Linked DNA regions of Homo sapiens: regions 1, 2 and 3 are each linked to region 4. Evidence: fine-mapped expression QTL. A gene starts in region 4. Each other region holds a variant in brackets. All regions are shown on one strand. Distances are from middle to middle.

The links. PIP is the estimated chance that this variant, and not a neighbour inherited with it, causes the effect.
Region 1: its variant is the best candidate, but not a certain one, in a credible set for the expression of SLC35F3 in whole blood (INTERVAL, PIP 0.81).
Region 2: its variant is the best candidate, but not a certain one, in a credible set for the expression of SLC35F3 in whole blood (TOPMed, PIP 0.86).
Region 3: its variant is the best candidate, but not a certain one, in a credible set for the expression of SLC35F3 in lung (TOPMed, PIP 0.82).

The regions. Positions count from the first base shown.
Region 1 is chr1:234,242,705-234,247,856 of GRCh38, forward strand. The region is part of intron 3 of SLC35F3 (solute carrier family 35 member F3); the gene reads left to right. Among named protein-coding and RNA genes, the nearest start is that of SLC35F3-AS1, 28 kb to the right of the region's middle. RefSeq lists an enhancer at 4,120-4,259. The variant A/T (reference allele first, on the strand shown) is at 2,067.
Region 2 is chr1:234,215,184-234,220,335 of GRCh38, forward strand. The region is part of intron 2 of SLC35F3 (solute carrier family 35 member F3); the gene reads left to right. Among named protein-coding and RNA genes, the nearest start is that of SLC35F3-AS1, 55 kb to the right of the region's middle. RefSeq lists an enhancer at 1,124-1,213. The variant G/A (reference allele first, on the strand shown) is at 3,127.
Region 3 is chr1:233,933,968-233,939,119 of GRCh38, forward strand. All of the region lies in intron 2 of SLC35F3 (solute carrier family 35 member F3), which reads left to right. Among named protein-coding and RNA genes, the nearest start is that of SLC35F3, 32 kb to the left of the region's middle. The variant TCTC/T (reference allele first, on the strand shown) is at 2,549.
Region 4 is chr1:233,901,590-233,906,741 of GRCh38, forward strand. It overlaps SLC35F3 (solute carrier family 35 member F3), which reads left to right and starts at 3,087. Exons shown (of 8, transcript NM_173508.4): 1 at 3,087-3,541; 2 at 3,940-4,169. The coding sequence starts at 3,489.

The sequences.
Region 1 (5,152 bases), 340 kb after region 4:
AATGTAACATTCAGGAGTGCATCAGAAGCATTTCACGCTTTTCTTACCTAAGTGCCTTATTTTATGACACTTACATTTAATGAGTTACTCTCAATCATATATACTTTATTAATTTATGACAAAATAAATTAAAAGCACTGGATATTAAAGCTCCCTTGTTGCAGGAACACATCATTAGAAACACTAGATAGCATTATTTTGCTACATGTTTCTCAGGGAAAAACAGAAGAGAACTTTGTCAAAGAAAGACTTTAAGTGTTTCACCAACAAAATGGAGACAGGCTTATCAGTATTTTACTATGAATTAGTGGGGGAGTAGGGGGAATGGGTCTTCCAAATGCTTATTGGTTAAAAGTGTTTTGTTTTGGCCGGGTGTGGTAGCTCATGCCTGTAATCCCAGCACTTTGAGAGGCCAAGGCAGGCAGATCATTTGAGGTCAGGAGTTCAAGACCAGCCTGTCCAACATGGTGAAACCCTGTCTCTACTAACAATACAAAAAAATTAGCTGGGCGTGGTGGTGCACACCTGTAATTCCAGCTACTCGGGAGGTTGAGGCACGAGAATCACTTGAACCTGGGAGACAGAGGTTGCAGAGATCACGCCACTGCACTCTAGCCTGGGCGACAGAGTGAGACTCCGCCTCAAAAAAAAATAATAAAGTGTTACTGGGGGTATGCTCACCTGCGTATCCCCAATAACACTTTATTATTAGATAACCGACTGTTATTAAAGTTGGACAAAAGTTGGTGTATTTATGCCCAGCTTAGAAAGTGCCTTTGTCTCTTGGTAAAGATGTTTTCTCGCATGTAGCAAGTGGAGGGAATTCACAAAGTAGATTGAGGGACACATGTAAACGTGCATTTTGCAGAATCCTTTTAGAGGATGTAGGAGGTGTAATAGATCTTCTCTAAAGAGGAAGGTTGGCACCTTCTAGGTTTCCTGGCCAAGCCCCCAGCTCTCAGGAGTCCTAAGCAAGCCACTGGTGTCCCGTTTGACTTTGCAAAACCACATCATTCTGAGACAGAGATGGGTGACTCTGAAGCCAAGATCCCTGCTCCTGCTACAGTGCAGGGTTGCTGCAGGGAGGGCTGTGCAGCCAGAGACTACTACATCTCCCAGCCTCCCCTGGCATCTAACTTGGGCTAAGTGACTTCCCTCCAAATGGCTAGCAGTCAACCAAGACAGATAATAAGCAGATGGGCATTTTCCTCCACTTCCCTGTTCCACTGGCCACATCACAGAATCCCCAGGCTTCAAGGGATTGCATAGCTGCAAGGTGGGAGAAGGCTCACCAACGGGTGAAATGACACCTGTCAACCAGTAACATGAATCAAAACTAAACTTCTGTGTGCCAAGCCTCTGAACAGAAGAGTTTGGCATAACAGCTAGCATGACATTGATTAGTATGATCTCCATCTCTCCCCACAAGCTCAGAGTTGGAGTCAGTCTGAGAGCCTACATCCTCTACCATGCATACTTAGATATCCTTATTGGCCAAAAGCTTCCATGTGGCTTTATTTTTATTCTGAATATAATAAAAATTTTTAAAGAGTATCTGGACAGAAAATGTCAATCTTTGAACACCACAAGGACAGGGATCATGTCCGTCTTGCTCACCTGCATGTCCCCAGCACCTTGCACAGTGCCCGGTGGGGTGCTGGTAGAAAGGGGTTGGGGGAAGGAAGAAACTATCCATGGGCAGTGGTGGTGATATCAATATCATGTTCACAATCAGAGTAGACTTGCTAAGATCAGCTCTCGGCAGGCAGTCTCCAAGGAGCAATGCAGGAATCATTTCCCTCTGTCCTTATAAGAAGCTGTTCCTCTATCATCCAGAATGATAAACTAATCCTATTCAGAAAGAGCCCTTGAATGACAAAGTAAGTTTTAGAAAAAGAAGTGCTTGATTATCACTTTTTTTTTTTTTTGGAAATTAGTCAGGTCTGAAATTAGTAGACTAGCAGAGGGGAAGTTCCATTATGCCATCTGATTGAACTGAGAGTAAAAACCCATCTTCAGGAAGTTTCAATTCCACATTTATACTGGCTAGAATTTCACAAGTTCCT[A/T]AAGCTCACTGAGTCCTGGAAGAGAAGAATTTAGAGGATTTGTGCATTTAGGGTCTTTAAAGTCCTGCTAACTTTTTTATCAATATAAAATATATATTATGTGTAAATGTGTTTTTTACATGCATAGACTATGTAATGATCAAGTCACTATTGGGGGTTTCCATCACTTTGAGTATTTGTCATTTTTATGCATTGATATCATTTCATGTCCTCTCTTCTCATTAGTTTGAAATACACAAAATATTGTTTGCTAAGCATCGTCACCCTAGTCTTTTTCCTTAGTACTCTTTTCTTCTATCTAACTGTATGTTTGTCCCCATTAACCAACTTCACTTCACTCCTACCCTCTACCACCACCTACCTTTCCCAGTCTCTGGTACTATTATTCTGTTCTCTGTGTCCTTGAGATCAAGTGTTTTTAGCTCCTGCATGAGTGAGAACATGCAGTATTTCTCTTTCTGTGCCTGGATTATTTCAATTAACAGAATGACCTCCAGTTCCATCCATGTTGCTGCAAATGACATGATTTCATTCCTTTTTACAGCGGAATGGTATTCCATTGTGTATATATGCCACATTTTCTTTATCCATTTGTCCATTGATGGACACATAAGTTGATTCCATATCTTGGCTGTTGTGAATAGTGCTGTGATAAACATGTGAGTGCAGGTATCCCTTTGAGATACTGATTTATTTTCCTTTGGATAAATACCCAGCAATGGGATTGCTTCCTGCTATGGGATTTGAGAACCTACATCTGTTTCAGTTACTATTACTCTTTAACAAACTAATCTGAACCTTAATGGCATTAACAACTCCTTTGTTGGCATCAAGGGATGGCTTTTCCCCTGCTCCATGATGCTTAGAGCGTGTGCTGGAGGGGGCAACTCAACAGCTGGGGGCTAGGCACATCTGTTGTCTTCCTCCAATGTCTGGAAGTTGATGCTGGTTGTCATGGGCCACCTAAGCTGGAGCTGTCAACCTGAGGGTCTACACTTGGCCTCTTCTGATGGCCTGGGCTTCCTCACAGGAGGGTGGTCCGTGGTAATCACACTGCGTTCATGGTTGCAGCTCAGAGCCCCAGAGGGATCAGTGGACACACAGCAGAAACTCCATTCCTTTTAGGACCTAGCCTCAAAGTCACATAGTGTCACTTCCACCATAGTTTATGTCAAGGCAGTTACGAGCCTGCCCAGTTTCAAGGGGGAGGGGGACATCAACTTTGCCTCTTGACTGGAGGGTGGCAAGATCATCTCGGGGAAGAGTACATGGAATGGGAGGTATTGCTGCTACCACCTTTGGAAAATATTATCTTCCACAGCATCTGAAGCAAAGGTGGTGTTTAGAGAGAGTAGTACACTGGCCTCTGTTAGGAAGATGTGTTACTGGGCTAGGAAAGGCTGCCAGTGGCAGAGGCTTGGGGTTTGGGAGGCAGGAGGAGTGGCTCAGATGGAGAATTCTACCAGGGCAGCAGCAGTTCACTTTCTCTAACCTGACCCCAGAGAGCAATCAGGACCCTGATTTACCCCCAAGCTTTTGGGTGCAGCTGGTCTAGCTTCAAGCCCTTCTAGACACCCTGGGACCTACCCAGGTTCCCCCAGACTTCAGCTGCAGCATCTGCTGTCTCCTTTCTCTGAGAAGCAGGGCCTGTATCAGTAAAGCAGAAAATAATATCAACCTGGATAGAGAGGACTAATAAAAGTGATAATAAATTATTCAGAGAGTGGAAAACTACTCTGGAGCTGCCAAATGATAAGAGCAAACACACGATGTGTTTTCTGTCCATGAATCTTCTGGATTCCTTTTTCCATACTGATGTTTTCCCCTTCTGAATAGGTGAAGTATTTTTATGCAAATAGTGCCCAAGAAGTACAGTAATGCAGGCCACTGACAACACAGTCATGTATAACCCAAGTCACATCCTTTTATGCACTGAACTGCCAGGGGACCTAGCATTAATAAAAACCACACGTAAAACAGAAACAGCCATATGCTGAGTTAAGGCATGAATAAGAAATCACTCCCAGAAGTGGTGAGAACAGCAGAGCAGAGTGCTATTGTGGCTCTGTAGGTTGAGTGCTCTGAGAATTGGGAGGCCCTGTCGGCTGCTGTATGTGTTCAAGTCAGATGGTGTCGGTCGGGGGTAAGGCCAGACCATGGTGCTGTCCTAGGAGCCAGGCACAGCACAGAGGAGGTGGCAGACACGGCAGGGTGTGATGGTCTCAAAATAGCAGAAACCACAGCCAAGTTCAAGACCCAGTTACCAGTTCATGGGGCTGGAAACCTGGAAACCAAGGTGTGAAACCAAACAGGTGGGAGCTTGAGCACCAGCAATGGTGTCTTAAATAGTTCCAAGCCCAAGTTGTATGGGAAGGTTGGGTGCTAGGTGCTTGAAACAAAAAAAGAAGAGAAACTCTGTGTGGCAGGGAGTAGTGGAATTATGTGAATGCATGGGTGCATGTATGCATGTGTCTATGTGTGCATATGTGTATAATAGAGCAATGGTTTTAAACTTTGTCATTTGATTGTTGGGTTGGTCAGTTGATTGGCTGGTCCATTGTTTGATAGTTTGGTTGGCTGTTCCATTGTTCGGTAGGTTGGTTGGCTGGTCCATTTTTAGGTGGGTTGGTTGGCTGGTCCATTGTTTGGTGGGTTGGTTGGTTGGTCCATTGTTTGGTGGGTTGGTTGGTTGGTTGGTCCATTGCTTGGTGGATTGCTTGGCTGGTCCATTGTTCAGTAGGTTGATTGGATGGTCCATTGTTCAGTGGGTTGGTTGCCTGGTTCGTTGTTCAGTGGGTTGATTGGCTGGTCCATTGTTTGGTGGGTTGAATGGCTGGTCTATTGTTCAGTAGGTTGGTTGGCTGGTCCATTGTTTGGGGGGCTGGTTGGCTGGTCAGTTGTTCTGTGGGTCGGTTGGCTGGTCCATTGTTCAGTGGGTTGGTTGGCTGGTCCATTGTTTGGTGGGTCGGTTGGCTGGTCCATTGTTTGGTGGGTTGGTTGGCTGGTTCATTGTTCAGTGGGTTGGTTGGCTGGTCCATTGTTTCATGGGTCAGTTGGCTGGTGCATTGTTTGATGGGTCAGTTGGC
Region 2 (5,152 bases), 310 kb after region 4:
AGGCCCTGGAGAGGGATTGGAAGGGCTGTGAGAGGCCCCCAGAAGGTGTCCTCCTCCCCGTGTTGTCCTTTCTGCCTGGAACTGCTCCCACCCAGGAAATGTGAGCGAGAGGACAGGGGAAGAAGCAGCCCACCGAGGAGAGCTTCCTCAGACACAGCTGGCTTCTGCTGGCCTAAGGGGCCTTGCTTTCCAATGGAGAAGGGGGGCAGAGGGCCAGTCCCAGTTCTTAACTCCTCCTCCCAGGAGGCAGAGGTGGAATGACTAACTCCCTCTGCCAGGAGCAAGCCACCTTGGCCAGGTGAGGCAGACAGACCATCCCCTGGGTCCCAGGAGCTCCCCTCTAGGCTTTTGCTTGTGCTGAGCTAACAGAGCCCATGAGCATCAGCGGTGAATGAGGGGCAGCCATGGGCTCCGACAGAGCCTGGCTTCTGCCCTTCCCAGGAAGCCTGGACTTCTCTAGGCTACTGTTGACCCTGCTTCCCACTCGTGACTTCTTGTTTATTACAATGAATCTCAGAACCAGCGAGGACAAGACAGAGGCTGGCTTGGTAATTGTATATCCCAAGCTTAGCTGTCCACACAGGCCTGCCTGCAGCTGCCCTAGTACTGTGATCCCCATCCTACTGAGGAGCACTGTGAGGCCCAGCAAGGTGGGTTAACGTGTCCTAGACCCACAGTTGGTAGGTGGTGAAGCAGGAATGGAATCCTGGGCTGTCCGATCCAAAGCTCAAGCATTTTTTCCAGAACATCAGTTTGCACTGAACTGCAACTACTTACCTATTTCTCAACATTTTCTATCTTTAGGAGGTTGGGTTTTTTTCCTTCTTGTGGCTGTCTTCTTCTCTCCTCCATCCCAACCTCAGGAATGACTTGATATCAGCCATCTACACCTGAGTTTAGTGCAAGTGCTACCTCTTCCAGGGGTGTTTGTATTTCTAAGCCTACCCAGACATTGCCCACATGCATGTGTGAATTGGGGAGGGAAGGATTGGCCATTTATTTCTCTGAGGGAAGCAGGGAGTGAGTGTCTGCTCACTCATAGGGTCCTCATGGGAAGCTGCCCACTCCTACCTCCTAGTAGGACAGATTGGTTCTGCTCTCCAGCAGCAGGGGGTCTCCCTGGGAAACTCCCAGCCCACCTTAGGCAGGACAGGTTCGAACTGCACTGGAAGTGGGGCAGGACGCGGATGGTGGGGCTACCTGAACTGGGTGCTGTGGCCTCAGAGGTGCTGCAGGAGGCAGTGAGTGGCATGCGAGGCACAGGTACTTCCCTATGGCCAAGCCTGGAGGTTGCCTTCAGGGAATGAAAGTGAAAATTATCTCCCACTAACCACCAACCCCCCAAAAAGTCCCTTAGGGCTGCTGCCAAAAGAGCTTTGAGTCTCCTGCACCTGCTAACGCCAGCAGCTGCCTCGCCACGGGCTTGGCTTTGGAACTAGCATTTCCTCATAAATGCCTGTGGATAACGGAAATGTATAGTGAACTAAGAAATGGTGAGATTGAGGATCAAGACTGGGCCCTGCCCCTTTTCCAGTTGGATTTGTGTAAATCACGAACACAGCCTCAGTTTCCGCAAACGTAAAAGAGAAGGAACAACCTACTTCAGCAGGCTGTGAGGAGATGCAATAAGGTAGAGGTAGCTGAAAATGCCTGGCAAGCCCCCAGTTGCATTTTTCGTGGGATACCTACAAGTATCCCATGCAAAATTCTGCCCCTCGGGGCCTCATAAAACCTGCTCTTGGTATGCCTGGCTCACATATAGCTCTTTCTCTCTGCCTAGTTTTTTTCCTTGGTGTTTTTATTCAGTTTGGCTTTTGGTCTATTTTTTGGAAACCATTTGCATCTTATGTGCTGGTTTTGGAAGTGTTGAATCATTTCATTTTAACTTGAATGCACAGGGCAAGGTGGTCCCCATGCTGTGGGTGTTTCTGTATGGATGGCAGACAGGCTACAGGGAGGGAATGCAGCCAGCGAGGAATATTTATTAGCTTGCAGAGTGTGTCATCTAAGGGGAGGCAAGAAGGCACCAGCATGTGGTACATATAAAACCAAAATAGAAAAGGCAAAGCTTGGTTAAACTCAAACACAGGAAGATGGGCAAGATGACTTCATTTACTCAACAAATACTTCATCCAACCCTACTCTGTGTCCTGTGACAATTTAGCAAGGCCCTGGAAAGGCAAAAAGGAACAATTCTAGCTTCATTCTCTTAAGGACGTTTTAGTCTAGAGGGGAAGAGACATACAGATAGATAGATAAATTATCAAATACAAAGTAGTAAGTTCTGGTATCGAACTGAAAAGCAAGGTGTCACGGGGACACTGAGAGTTGAGCAATCTGAGGAGGTGTTCCTGAGGAGGAGGCCTTCATGAGGAGGAGGGTTTCTACAGAGGAATACTTTCTGAGGGGGGCCTTTCTGAGGGGAAGGCCTTTCTGAGAAGGAGGCCTTTCTAAGAAGAGGCCTTTCTGAGGAGAAGATATTCCTAAGAAGAGGAGGCTTTTCTGAGAAGGAGGGCTTCTAAGGAGAAGGCCTTGCCGGGGAAGCCTCCTCAGAAAGATCTCTGAGGAGGAGGCCATTCTAACAAAAGGGCCTTTTTGAGGAAGAGGCCATCTAAGAAGGAAGCCTTCCTCAGGAAGAGGCCTTTCTGAGGAGATATTCCTGAGGAACAGGCCTTTCTAAGATGGAGCCATTCTAAGGAGGGGGCCTTCCTGAGGAGGAGGCCTTATGAGGCATCACAGCTGAGGCTGGGGGGATATGAGAAAGCTTGTTGGTGCAGAGGGGAGGAGAGGCAGTTTCAGGCAGAGAGAACATGGATGCTAGGGCTCAGCCCAGAAGCATGAGGAGAGTGGGGCTGGGCCTTAGATAGGGGTTAAGGTTTGAAAAGTGTGTTCTGGCGAGATTGATGGCATCTGTCATGTCTAAAAACATACCTTGTTTTCACAGATCCTTTGCTTGGCTTTCCTTTCAGAAGCAGAGCATTGGTCAGTAGCACATCTCTAATAGACTAGTGTTTACTGGGATCAGCTCTACTCACAATCAACTCATTCATGTTCAGTGAAATTACATTCAATAGGGATTAATCATTGAGAACAGTACAATGAATTCCCCCAAGAGGCGTGCAGCAA[G/A]TAGTGTTGTGGAAAGGGTGAGGGCTTTGGAATTAGATGGACTGGGTCTATCCAGCTGTCATGCTAGGTGAGTGATTTCTGGCTAATGAATAAAGCTCTCCAGGAATCAGTTCCGTCCTAGGAAAGGAGGGGTGATGACATCTTGCTCTTAATACTCAAATAATAGTTTTTGCTAATGAATGCCTCCTATATTGCAGGTACTATGCTAGGAGAGATTGTTCCATTATCTCTATTTTTTCCCTAAGCAAGGGTAAGTATTGTTATCCAACTTTATAGATAAGGAAACTGAGGCTCAGAAAACTCATTCACGAAGGAACTGTAATTAGAAAGCAAGGATCCCAGGCTTCAAATCTATATCTACCTGGCTGCAAATGTTGCAAGACCTTTGCACAACTGCATTTCATTTGAGTAGGAGAGAGAATTATATCAGCTCATGGCACTTTGTAGATGCTCAGTAAATGCTCCCTAAAGCTCCCATTGTATGTAATTCCAGCAGTTTGGGAGGCCGAGGTGGGTGGATCATGAGGTCAAGAGAGCAAGACCATCCTAGCCAACATGGTGAAACCCTGTCACTACTAAAAATACAAAAATTAGCTGGACATGGTGGCGTGCACCTGCAGTCCCAGCTACTTGGGAGGCTGAGGCAGGAGAATCACTTGAACCCAGGAGGCGGAAGTTGCAGTGAGCCCAGATCATGCCACTGCACGCCAGCCTGGTGACCTGGTGACATAGAGAGACTCCATCTCAAAAAAAAAAAAAAAAAAAAAGCTCCCACTGTAATATAACTAATATAACTCAGTGGTTGGGACCCCCATGGGGGGTTCATAGGCCCCATGGCTGTGTGCCATATTCTTAGTGCCTCTCCTTTGGGAGTGTTGGGTGATCTCAGCTGCCCCCAGAGTAGGTCTGACTACCTTGTTCCTGTCAACAGGATAAGACGGTTATCCTGGAATGCTCAATTAATAGTATATAAAGACCCAGGATGCTGGCCCAGTCCAAGAGGATTCTTGAGAAGTATACTGCCAAAGAGTTTCCCCAAACCCAAAATATTTCCCTGATTGGCTAGCTCTAGGTCTGAAACTTCAGTGGCAAAAGTCATTCATGTAGTGATCAAATATTTTACCTAATATACGCAAGAGAATGAACCAGATGTTTGGGAGGATTCTAAGAGGAGTGAAACATAATCCTTGATCCAACAGAGCTTCCAATCGAGTGAGGAATGTCAGAAAGGCATACCAATAAAGAATGCATGCTGAAATGTAATGTTTTTGATTCTATGGAAGAAGTATAAAGTAAATGTTGCATTTCAGCTGAGGGTGAACTCAGTTCTGGCTGGGACGCAGATGGCCCCTGCGCAGCACTCTTGCTTGCCGTCATTACCCCCTTCTTCGCCAAAATGACCTGATCTGACAGGATACTCTTTCCTGCTGAGCCTGGATGTGGCCTCAGAATTCTTCTTGTCACCACACTCCAGGTGACGGCCTAAACATTTATTGGAACTGCTTTTCCTGGAAGCACGGTCGGGATGGCATGGTAGAGGAGTTTGCCTCTGCCCTGGGCTGTCAGAGGTGGGAGGTGAGAACACAGCATTTCCTGACAGAGGGAGCCACAGACGAAGGCGCAGAGCTAGGAGAGGGTGGCGCTGGGAGACCAGCAGGCAGTCTACTGGGCCAGAGCGTAGTGATCAGAAGAAGCAGGAGGAGGGGAGGTTAAGCTAGACCATGGGCAGATGCTGAGGCATCCTGAACGCTGGACTCGGAAGACAGGATTGAAACAGGGGGAGCCAGAGAAGAGAAGAAAACACCATCCGAAACTGAGAAAAGACGGTCATGGGCAGCAGTGGTGTTCAAACTGGGTTATGAAATCTCTTTCATCAGTCGCAATAAGTATTTCTTATCAAAGGAATTAGAATAGAATAAAAACTGCCACTGTCTATCAAATGTAATAAGAGACAGAGTGGATCCAAGATGCTTTCATTTCAGGGGTGTGTGTGTGTGTGTGCTCATGTGTACATGCTCATACGTGT
Region 3 (5,152 bases), 32 kb after region 4:
TTGAGGCTATTCACTCCTCTTTGTTTTCTACTCTATTAGCACAAATAGTCTAGAGTTTAGCGGGAAGTGCTTTATTCCATTTGAAACATGATTGCATAACTTGCTCAGAGTTTTTCACATGCTGCTAAGGATAGCATAGGATATCAGTTATTCTTCAAAGTGAATTCAGAGTATGTCTTTAGGTTCAGAAGTATTCAGGCTATGAACCGGATGCATATTTTATCCTACACATTAAAAGTGGCCTTTATTCAGGTAAGCTTCCTTAAGTGAGGTTTTAGGGGAAACTGAGTGCCCCAGGGGTTAATATTCAGTTCCTCATTTTCTAAGACACTTCCCCACTTTCTAAGACATTAATTTGCTGCTTGAGTTGCCATTACATTTGTTTCTAGGTTTTTTCTATATGTATGAATTCCTTATTCTTAAAATCAACCTTCACGAATACACCCATGTAAAGCAAATAATTTCCCTGATAATAACTAGTCAGCTAGATGGGTTATACTATTGAGTTACATGTGCATTTATCTTGTTTTACAAATTACCATTAGACAAGAAAAAAATCAATTATTACAGAGATATTTTAATGAGCTGTCTTAAAAATACACTTCTTGTTGAAGTAAAATATCCAAAATGAAATGAATGTTAATTATAAGTGTACAGCTTGATGAATTATTACAAAATGAATATACCTTTCTTTACTGCATCTAGAGCAAGAAACAGAATATTACTGGCATGTAAGTGATTTTTTCAGATACCACTATACAGGAGATCTTATTAATTTTAAAATAATCAAAAAAGCCACTGGCTTTCCCTCTGAAGCAAAGGTAGCTCCCTATGCAGATAAACAATGTTTCAATGAAAATCTAAGTGGATCCTGTCTTTTACAAAGAAGCTGTGTCTAGCCTGGTATTCTGCCAGGATGATCAAGATAGCTTACATACATTCTAATCAGTGTATCATGTGAAAAATGGGATCTTATCATGCTTCTTGGAAGCTTTAGGTTTTCTTTGTAATTTTAATATCCCTTTGCAAGAGCTGACTTCCAGGCAAGATCTCTGTGCTGAAATTCCCATATGTTATGTATGTTTACTTGCTTTTCCACTAGATACCTTAACATTTCAGTCATGATTATTTTAAAGTTTCATTCTGGTGAAACCAGGTTGTCTCTGCATCTGGTTCTATTGATGGCTTTATTTCTTCACAATGAGCTGGGTTTTCCTTGCCCTTTTTTTTTTTTTTTTTTTTTTTTTTTTGCATACCTGAAAATACATGATTGAATACTGGCTATTGTGTGGAAAAGAACAGAAGAGACTGAGCCATACATTATTGATATCCAAAAGTGGACACACATCTTTTTGTGTCAGGCCATTAGTGGAAGGTTGAGTCAGTCTAGCTGGGAATTGATTTAGGTTTGAGTGTGTTTGACTGCCTCTTCTAACTTTCCTCCAGCAGCAATTGACCTTTGCCTGTATCCTGGAGGCAGGGCACTTCCTATATTGTCCTCAAAGTGAGCTGAAGTTTATCCTACTCCTAACCCAGAAGCAACCGATTTTTTTTTCCTTGGCCCTAGGTTGACGGAGTTTGCTGTCCAGTGACTTAAGACTTTTGCTTTCTGTAAGGGTTGAGAAAGTAGGCAGGGCTTTATGCCTGTCCCCAGCAGCAACTATCTGATCACCTCCCACAAGCTTATGTTGCCTTGAGAGGCTCTTTCTGTCTCTTGCCCTGCCCCAGTTCCTCTCATGAGCTACTTAGTGGAGGCTCAGGGGTAAGAACTTGAGCCCGAGTGCAAGCTTCCCTGTGCCTGAGACATCCACCTATTCCAAATTGACACGTTACTCTATATTTTGCCTTTAAGGATTCATTTAAAATGTAGCTGATTCCTTGTTACTCATTGGTATGGATGCCTCCTTTTTCATTCATCCTCTGCTAAAGGTAAAGCAGACGGTGTGTTTCATATTAACTCAGGAGTGCTTGGCACTTGAATTCAGTTTGTTTGCCTTTCAACAACCTCAGCTCTTGATGGGCTCAATAAATAACATAATTCTGTTGACTGTCCAGCTTTCTCTTGTAATTTTCTCTTGGGTCTTTCTGCATCCTAAGCAGAAGTAGAATTTGGTTGTAGGTTTTAAGTAGTGTTAACTATGTATTTGTTTTTGGTGCTGGTAAAAAGACCAGAGAAGAAGAGGTAAATATTATTACCTATCTGAGATCATTCCTTTTCAGTAGCCATGGCCCCCCCAGGGTTGCAGGTTAGCCTAGTGAAGATAGAAAAGGAAGATAGGAAGAAAGGAGATGTTATTGATATTTTGGTAATTGTTTATAAAAGGAGAGCAGCAGACAGAGTGACATCTCCAGCTCAGTTCAACAAGTAAACTTTTACTGGATAAGTTTTTCTAGGATACTATCCTGTCTGTATCATAATATCGTCTCTCTGTTTCTTATAGCCTGTGCCTGTCATTATAAAAACCTACATCTCAGAACAAGAGGGTAGTGGGGAACATTTGATGCTTCCCTTCTTGAATCCTATCCAGTGCCTCTTTCACCTTCTTGT[TCTC/T]CTCCTCCTCCTCCTTCTTCCTCCTCCTCCTCCTCTTTCTTCTTCTTCTCCTCCTTCCTCTTCCTCCTCCTCTTCTTCCCTGTCTTCTTCCTCTCCTCCTCCTCCTCATTCTTCTTCTTCTTCCTCTTCTCCTCCTCCTTTCTTCCCCTTCTTCTTTTTCTCCATCTCCTTCTCCTTCTTCTTTTTTTGAGACAGGGTCTTGCTATGTCGCCCAAGCTGAAGTGCAGTGGTGTGATCATGGTTCACTGCAGCCTTGACCTCCCAGGCTTAAGCAGTCCTCCCACCTCAGCTTCCCAAGTACCTGGGACTGCAGGTGTGTGCCACCATGCTGGGCTGATTTTTCAGAAATGTTTTGTAGAGACGGGGCCTCCTTGTGTTGCCTAGGCTGGTCTCGAACTCCTGAACTTAAGTGATCTTCCTGCCTTGGCCTCCCAAAGTGTTGAGATTACAGGCGTGACCACTGCATCTGGCCACCTCTGTCTTCTTACAGGCTCTGACATTTTGTGATAACAAGACTTGCCAGTCAGCATTTTACCATCCCTGCTTCCACTCCCATCTACCCCCATGAATCTAGCAGTTCACAACACTTGGCACCAGCATCAAAATAAGATACTTCCTCAAGTTTCATAGAAAGGGGAAAATCAAGAAGAACTGAACCTTAATGTAATGAAAGACAGAAGAAAAGCCTCATGGTAAATTAGGGTGCTGCTCATGTGAGAACCTAGATTTTAAAAAGGAGATTAAGGGCAATTTAGAAAATGATATCTTTGATAAAGATCAGGATACAAAAAGTAGCTGAATGCAAATTAAATGGATGAAGAGTATTTGGGATATCCATTCTGTTAAAATCAAGATGTGATACACCTTTTGTTTTAAAGTCAAGAGAAAAATTGTCCAAGGCTGCCTGTCTGAAGACTTCTGCCCCTGCAGAGACCAGTAAAGATAATCCAGCCATCTGATTATCCCTCTGTTTATGCTTGCCCAAAATAAGCAAAATGAGGACTTTTCCTATGAATCCTGAGACATCAGTTATTTTATTTTAGTACTAAAGTGCCCCACTGGAGTTGTTTGATGTTTTGGAAGGGCAAATTTGTAGACAAAGAAGAACCTTTGAAGTATTTGAAAAAGGGAAGTGATGGGATTGAATTTTCATTTTGAAAAATATACTCTGAAACAAAACGGAGAAGGGACTGAAAGCATTGCCTGGTTAGGAAGCTAATGCTATAATTTAGCAAAAGAAGATGAAGGTCACAACTAAGGCTGGGTCAGTGGGGATGCAGAAGGTGAGATAGAAGCAAGGATAGTCAGGGGGCAAGGATGGGAGACAGAGTTCGATAGTGTTGGTGAGTGCGGGAGAGGGGTGAGTGGAGGATGATGTTCAAATTTCTGACTCAGGTGACTTGTTAATGTTCAGGTAGTGATGTCCGTTAATTAGTTGAAAGTAGTTTGCAGAATTCAGGAGAGAAGATTGGGTTGACAATAGTCATTAAATTATAGGTGACAGAAGACAGGTGAAGCCTTGAATCAATGCCATTGCCCCCATTGATTAGTTGGGGTTCTTGGTTGAAAGCAACAGACATTCAATGTTTTCATCATAGGCAAAAAAATAAATTTCTGGAAGTAACTAAAAATTCACAGAAACAATAGGAGAATAGATGGCCAGACCTAAAAAGTGGGCATGATGTGGGGGCCCCAGATACTAGCAAGCAGAGAATACAATAAAGCTCATCCCTCAAAAGAAAGCCTGCAGCTGTGAAAGCTAGTTTTCAATTTGTCCCTCTGTCTTCATTGTACTGGCTTAAGATTTACAGGAATCTGATTGGCTGAACCCGGGTTATATGGTCTTTCTGTGGCTCTCCTAGGAGGTAGAATGTTGAAGAATCATATACCCTTGGCTTAGGAAGCTGCAGTGAGAGGCAACCTAAGAATATTGCCTTCTGACGTTGTACACAGTGGAAATTTCCCTTCAAATGGATTTTGGGATTCTAATATCAAAGGGATGGATGCTAGAGAACAACACAAGGGTCATTATACCTAAGGAAAAAGGTAATTATACCTAAGGTCAGTGAGAAGACGAAGAGCTAACAATGGATGGACAGATGGATGGATAGATGGATGGATGGATGGATGGAAGGATGGAGGGATGGATTGGTGGGTGGATGGATGGATGGATGGATGGATGAATGGATGGATGGATGGATGGATGAATGGAAGTATAGGTGGATGGATGGAAAGATGGGTGGATGGATAGACACAGAGGAACTAGTCTAGGGAACTGAATGATCGGAAAGGAAAGCAAATACAAGAAATTGAGTCATAGAAGTGAGGAAAGGAAAAACTTATCAGAAAGCAGTATTGGTTAACAATGTCAAACTGCAACACTGCAGTCAAGGAAGATGAGGACTAAAAAGCATCCGTTCGGCTTAACTATTAGTAGATTACTGGGTCCCTAAGCACCCAGTCTCCATTATCCATCATAGGGTTTGGAACTGCCAGCATATCCATTCTTCCCAATCCTTGTTATGATGCTTCTGGTTCTTTCAGGTTGCCAAGATCTGCAAGTGGTAGTCAGCTCTTAGAACACTAACTTAAATAAATAAA
Region 4 (5,152 bases):
TTTTTTAAAGAACGATTTCAGGTTCACAGCAAATTTGAGGAGAAAGTACAGAAAGTTTTTAAATACCTTCCCCCTGTCACACACCCACAGCTTCTCTCCACCCACGTCAACATCCTGCACCAGTGGTACATTCGTTACAAATAATGAGCCAACATTGACACATCACTATCACCCAAAGTCTATAGTTTACATTGGGGTTAACTCTTAGGGTTGTGCATCCACTGAGTTTTGACATATGTATAATGATATATATCTACCATTACAGTACTATACAAAATCAACCCACTGCCCTAAAAATCCTCTGTGTTCTGCCTGTTCATCCCATCCTCTCCCCAACCATTGGGAACCAGTGATCTTTAAACTATCTCCATAGTTTTGCCTCTCTCAGACCGGTTTCTTTCACTTAGCAATATGTTTTCAATTTCCTTCATGTCTTTTTGCAGCTTGATAGCTCATTTTATCACTGAACGGAATATTCTTTTGTATGGATGTACCACAGTATGTTTATTCATTCAGCTACTGAAGGACATCTTGGCAATCATGAAAAAAGTTCCTATAAACATTTGTGTGCAGATTTTTGTGGGGACTTAAGTTTTGAACTCATCCAGGTAAATATCAAGGAGCATGACTGATGGGTTGCATGGTAACAGTATGATTAATTTTGTAAGGAACTCAAACTGTCTACCAAAGTGCTGTACCATTTTGCATTCCCACCAGCAATGAATGAGAGACTTCTTGCTGTTCCACATCCTGCCAGCATTTGATGTTGTCAGCGTTTGGGATTTTATTCATTCTAGTAGGTGTATAGCAATACATCTTTTTTGTCTTAATTTGGAATTCCCTAATGATGTATGATGTGGAGCATCTTTTCATGTGCTGATTTACCATCTGTATATCATCTCTATTGATATGTTTGTTCAGCTGTTTTGCCAATTTTTTAATTGGGATCATTTTCTTATTGTTGAGTTCTAATTATTCTTATTTTTTATTACAGTTCTTAATCATGTATATGATTTGACATATTTTCTATTGGTCTGTAGCTTTTCTTCCCATTGTTTTAACAGTGTCTTTTGTAGAGCAGAAGTTATTAATCTTAACGAAGTCCAATACCAATTTTTACTTTCATGGATCATGCCTTTGATGTTGTATCTAAAATGTCATTTACAAACCCAAGGTCACCTAGGTTTTCTCCTTTTTATCTTCTAAGAGTTTTATAGTTTTGCATTTTATATTTAGGTCTATGATCTATTTTGAGTTAATTTTTGTGAAAGGTGTAAGGTCTGTATCTATGTATCCAGCTTCTTTTCTTTTTTTCTCTCTTTCTTTCTTTTTTTTTTTTGTGATTGGATGTCTAGTTGTTCTAGCACCATTTGTTGAAAAGGTGATCTTTTCTCCATTAGATTTCTTTTGCTCCTTTGTCAAAGATCACTTGACTCTATGTGTGGGTCTATCTTGGCCTCTCTATTCTGTTCCATTAATCTATTTGTCTGCTCTTTCACCAATACCACACTGTCTTGATTACTGTAACTATAGTAAGTCTTGAAGTTGGGCAATATCAGTCCTCAGACTTTGTTCTTCTCCTTTAATATTGTGTTGGCTATTATGGGTCTTTTGCCTTTTCATATAAACTTGAGAATCAGTTTGTGATATTCACAAAATAACCTCCTGGGATTCTGATTGGAATTACTTTGAATCTATAGATGAAGTTGGGAAGAACTGACATCTTAACAATATTAAATTTTTCCATCCATGAACATAAAATATCTCTCTATTTATTTAGTTCTTTGATTTCTTTCATCACAGTTTTGTAGTTTTTCTCATATAGATATTGTACATATTTATTAGATTTGTACCTAAATATTTCATTTGAGTGGTGTGCTAATATAAATAGTATTGTGGTTTTAATTTCAAATTCCCATTGTTCGTTGCTAGTATATAGAAAAGCAGTTGACTTTTGTACATTAATTTTGTATCCTTCAATCTTACCATAATTGCTTATTAGTAACAGGAGAGTTTTTTTGTCAATTGAAATTTTTCTACATCAACAGTCATGTCAGCTGCAAAGACAGTTTTCTTTTACCTTTTCCTTCACAATACGTATACTTTTAATTTCCTTTTCTTGTCTAATTTCATTAGCTGGGACTTTCAGTATGATGCTGAAAAGGATTGCTGAGTAGAGACATACTTGCCCTGTTCCTTATTTTAACAGGAAAGCTTCTAGTTTCTCACCATTAAGCATGGTGTTAGCTGTACGCTTTTGTAAATGTTCTTTTTCAAGTTGAGAAAGTTCCCCTCTATTCATAGTTTGCTGCTATACAATATGATTTTAATATAAAAAAAGCAGTACATAAAGTAGTGTGTACAATTTCATTCCGATTTTTGTGACAACTGTATTTTGCGTTGGAAAAAAGCCTGGAAGAGAATACGTTCATAATTGAAAGTCGTCATTTTTGGCTGGATAATGGATATTTTCTTCTCCACATACTTCTATCTTTTCTAAATTTGCCCCGATGAAAAATAATATTAGGAAAGGTGATTAGGTAGTCTGAAGAGAATGCCTTTCGGCCGTCGGGGGCAGTGGGGTGGTAAGGAAAAAGATGAGAAGCTTTTAAAATGGAAATCTATGAAGAGAGAACTGATTTCGTAATTGCATCATCAGTGGGAAAGTAAGCTCTCTGAGGACCAGGTCTGACTGAGAGATCCCCACAGCGTAATAGATAATACATTTTGTGTCTCAGCGTTGCCTATGAAACGCCATTTATTCACTTGGCATGCTGAGCATGGAACCAGGTTTCTTTCTTTCCAAGTAGTTTTGCTAATTTAGAGAAAGAGAGAGACAGACATATACATAGAGAGAGAGAGAGAGAGAGAGAGAGAGAGAGAGAGAGAGAGTGTGAGAGAGAGAGAGAAAAGTACTGAACTGGGAGCGGCAGGGTTTGAGTCAAAAGAGAAGGGTGGAGGAGCGCGTCCGGTGCCCCAAGGCTTCCAGGCGGAGCGCGGGCGCGAGGTGCGGGCTCCGGGGCGGAGCGCACGCCCGGGAGGCGGGAAGTGGGCAGCAGCGCCCCCGCCTGGCCCCTGTGCGCCCCGACCCGACGCCTCCCCGCCCGACCAGGTGCCTCGAGAGCGCACAGCTGGGAGGGCTCTCCCGGTCGCGGCGAGACTCACGCCTGCGGTGTGCTAGGGCGGCGGCGACGGTGACGGGCGTGGGGCGCGGCGCTGCCTCGGCTGCCGGGTCGTTGCGGCGAGCGCGCGGGCCGGCCTGGAGTCACCGGGCTGAACCGCCGCGCCTGCATCGTGCCGCACGCCGCGGAGGCGCTCGGGTACAGACCGCGCGGGCGCGCACAAAGCGGCCCGGGGCGGCCGGCGCGGCGCAGACCCTCGGTGGGCAGCGCACTCCAGTCTTCCCAGGCTAGCGGCTGCAGGGAGCTCCGGCCCGCGGCCCCTCCGCCTCAAGTCTGGGAGCTGCCGGTCCCACTCTGTCTTTGCCTATGGGGATTCGAGAGTTTCCCAGCGGCGCACCCAGGGGCAAGAGCATTGCCGTGTGAGTAGCGCCCCGGGCGTGGGTGAGCGAGCCGGCGGGCGGGAGGCCGGAGCGCCGGGGTAGCCCTTTGCAGCTGGGACACTGGGCAGTCTGAGGCTCGGGGAAGGGCGGCGCGCGCGGTGGAGCTGCTCGGGAAGTTTCAGTCATTCTTTCCCTCGCCACTCGCCCCAACCCGCACTGCCCCGAGACGCCCAGGATAGGGCACTGGGGACAGCTGCCCGGGGAAGTGGGTGAGTGGCGGCGGGAAGGGAGGAGCGCGGGCTCTGCCGCGGCGCTCGCCCCCGGAGGGCCCCGGCCGCGCTCTTGCTCTCGCCCTGGGATCTGCTCCTCACGAATCCCCTCCTCTCTGTCCATGCTCCCCCTGCCCACCCACCTGCCCGTGGCGCCTGCGACCGCAGTGGCATGAGGAGGTCACCGGACGTCAGCCCCCGGAGACTGTCCGACATCAGCCCCCAGCTCCGGCAGCTCAAGTACTTGGTGGTGGACGAGGCGATTAAGGAGGATCTGAAATGGTCGCGCTCCGTGGAGGATCTCACCAGCGGGCCGGTGGGGCTCACGTCCATCGAGGAGCGGATCCTGCGCATCACTGGCTACTATGGCTACCAGCCCTGGGCAGCGAGCTGCAAAAGTAAGACCCCCTCACGTCATGTTTCCCGTTCACTGGTCCATCTTCTTACCATTGTCACAGCAGCCTCGGGGAGCGCACGCAGTGAGGCGTCCAGCCACCCCCTCCCGCCCTGCCTGCTGATACAGACCCAGGTTTGCAACTTCGAGGAAGAGGCCCGGAGACGGAGTTCTCCTGGACCTCTGAGGCGTTCTGATGCGTTCTCTTACACCCCTTCCTCTCCCACACACAGGATCTCTCTGTATCCTTATCTCTCCACTGCCAAATACGGAGGACACTCCTATGTGGCAGACCGTGGGAAACAGATCAGAAACTCAAAGTATCCCGGACAGTGTGGCTTCCCCGCGGATCTGAAAGTCTCACAGGGCCCTCGGTCAGGTCTCACCAGGCTCAGATGGAGATGCTGACTTACATAGCCAGGATTTTAACTCTTCCTTGCATCTCCTAGCCCTGATGATAGAGGACAATTCTTGGGGTCTTCATTTTGGATGCCGTTCACGCCCTTCTCCCCTGGATTTTATCGGTCTTCAGTAAGGAGGTTCTATAGGGATCATTCTAGATAGTGGTGTTGGTCCCTGCAAGTTGAATGTTTGGTGTCAGGTGGAGAAGCTGAAATGTTTTTCTTTCCGTGGGTCCTAGCTAATGGCTTTGAGGATGCTGTGATCAATTAGACAGACATTATCTTATGTCACCAGGACTAATTTGGTGGACATTTCTTTTTCTCACTTTGCAAGAGAGAGGTTGATTATGATGAAATCCAGATATCTATAAATATAACCATAATTAGGTGGTCTCATCACTGTAGTTTGACATAAGAGATTGCCATTTGCCACCTCAGTCCGTATGAGAAATGGGCCTTGACGTCTTTCATTTGTAATAAAGACTAGATTAATAGCTTGTTGATTTTGAGTTTTTTTCGACCTTTTATTGCTTAAAATTGAAACATTATTTATTGGTCTTTAAGGGGAAAACGGGCGTTTGTAATT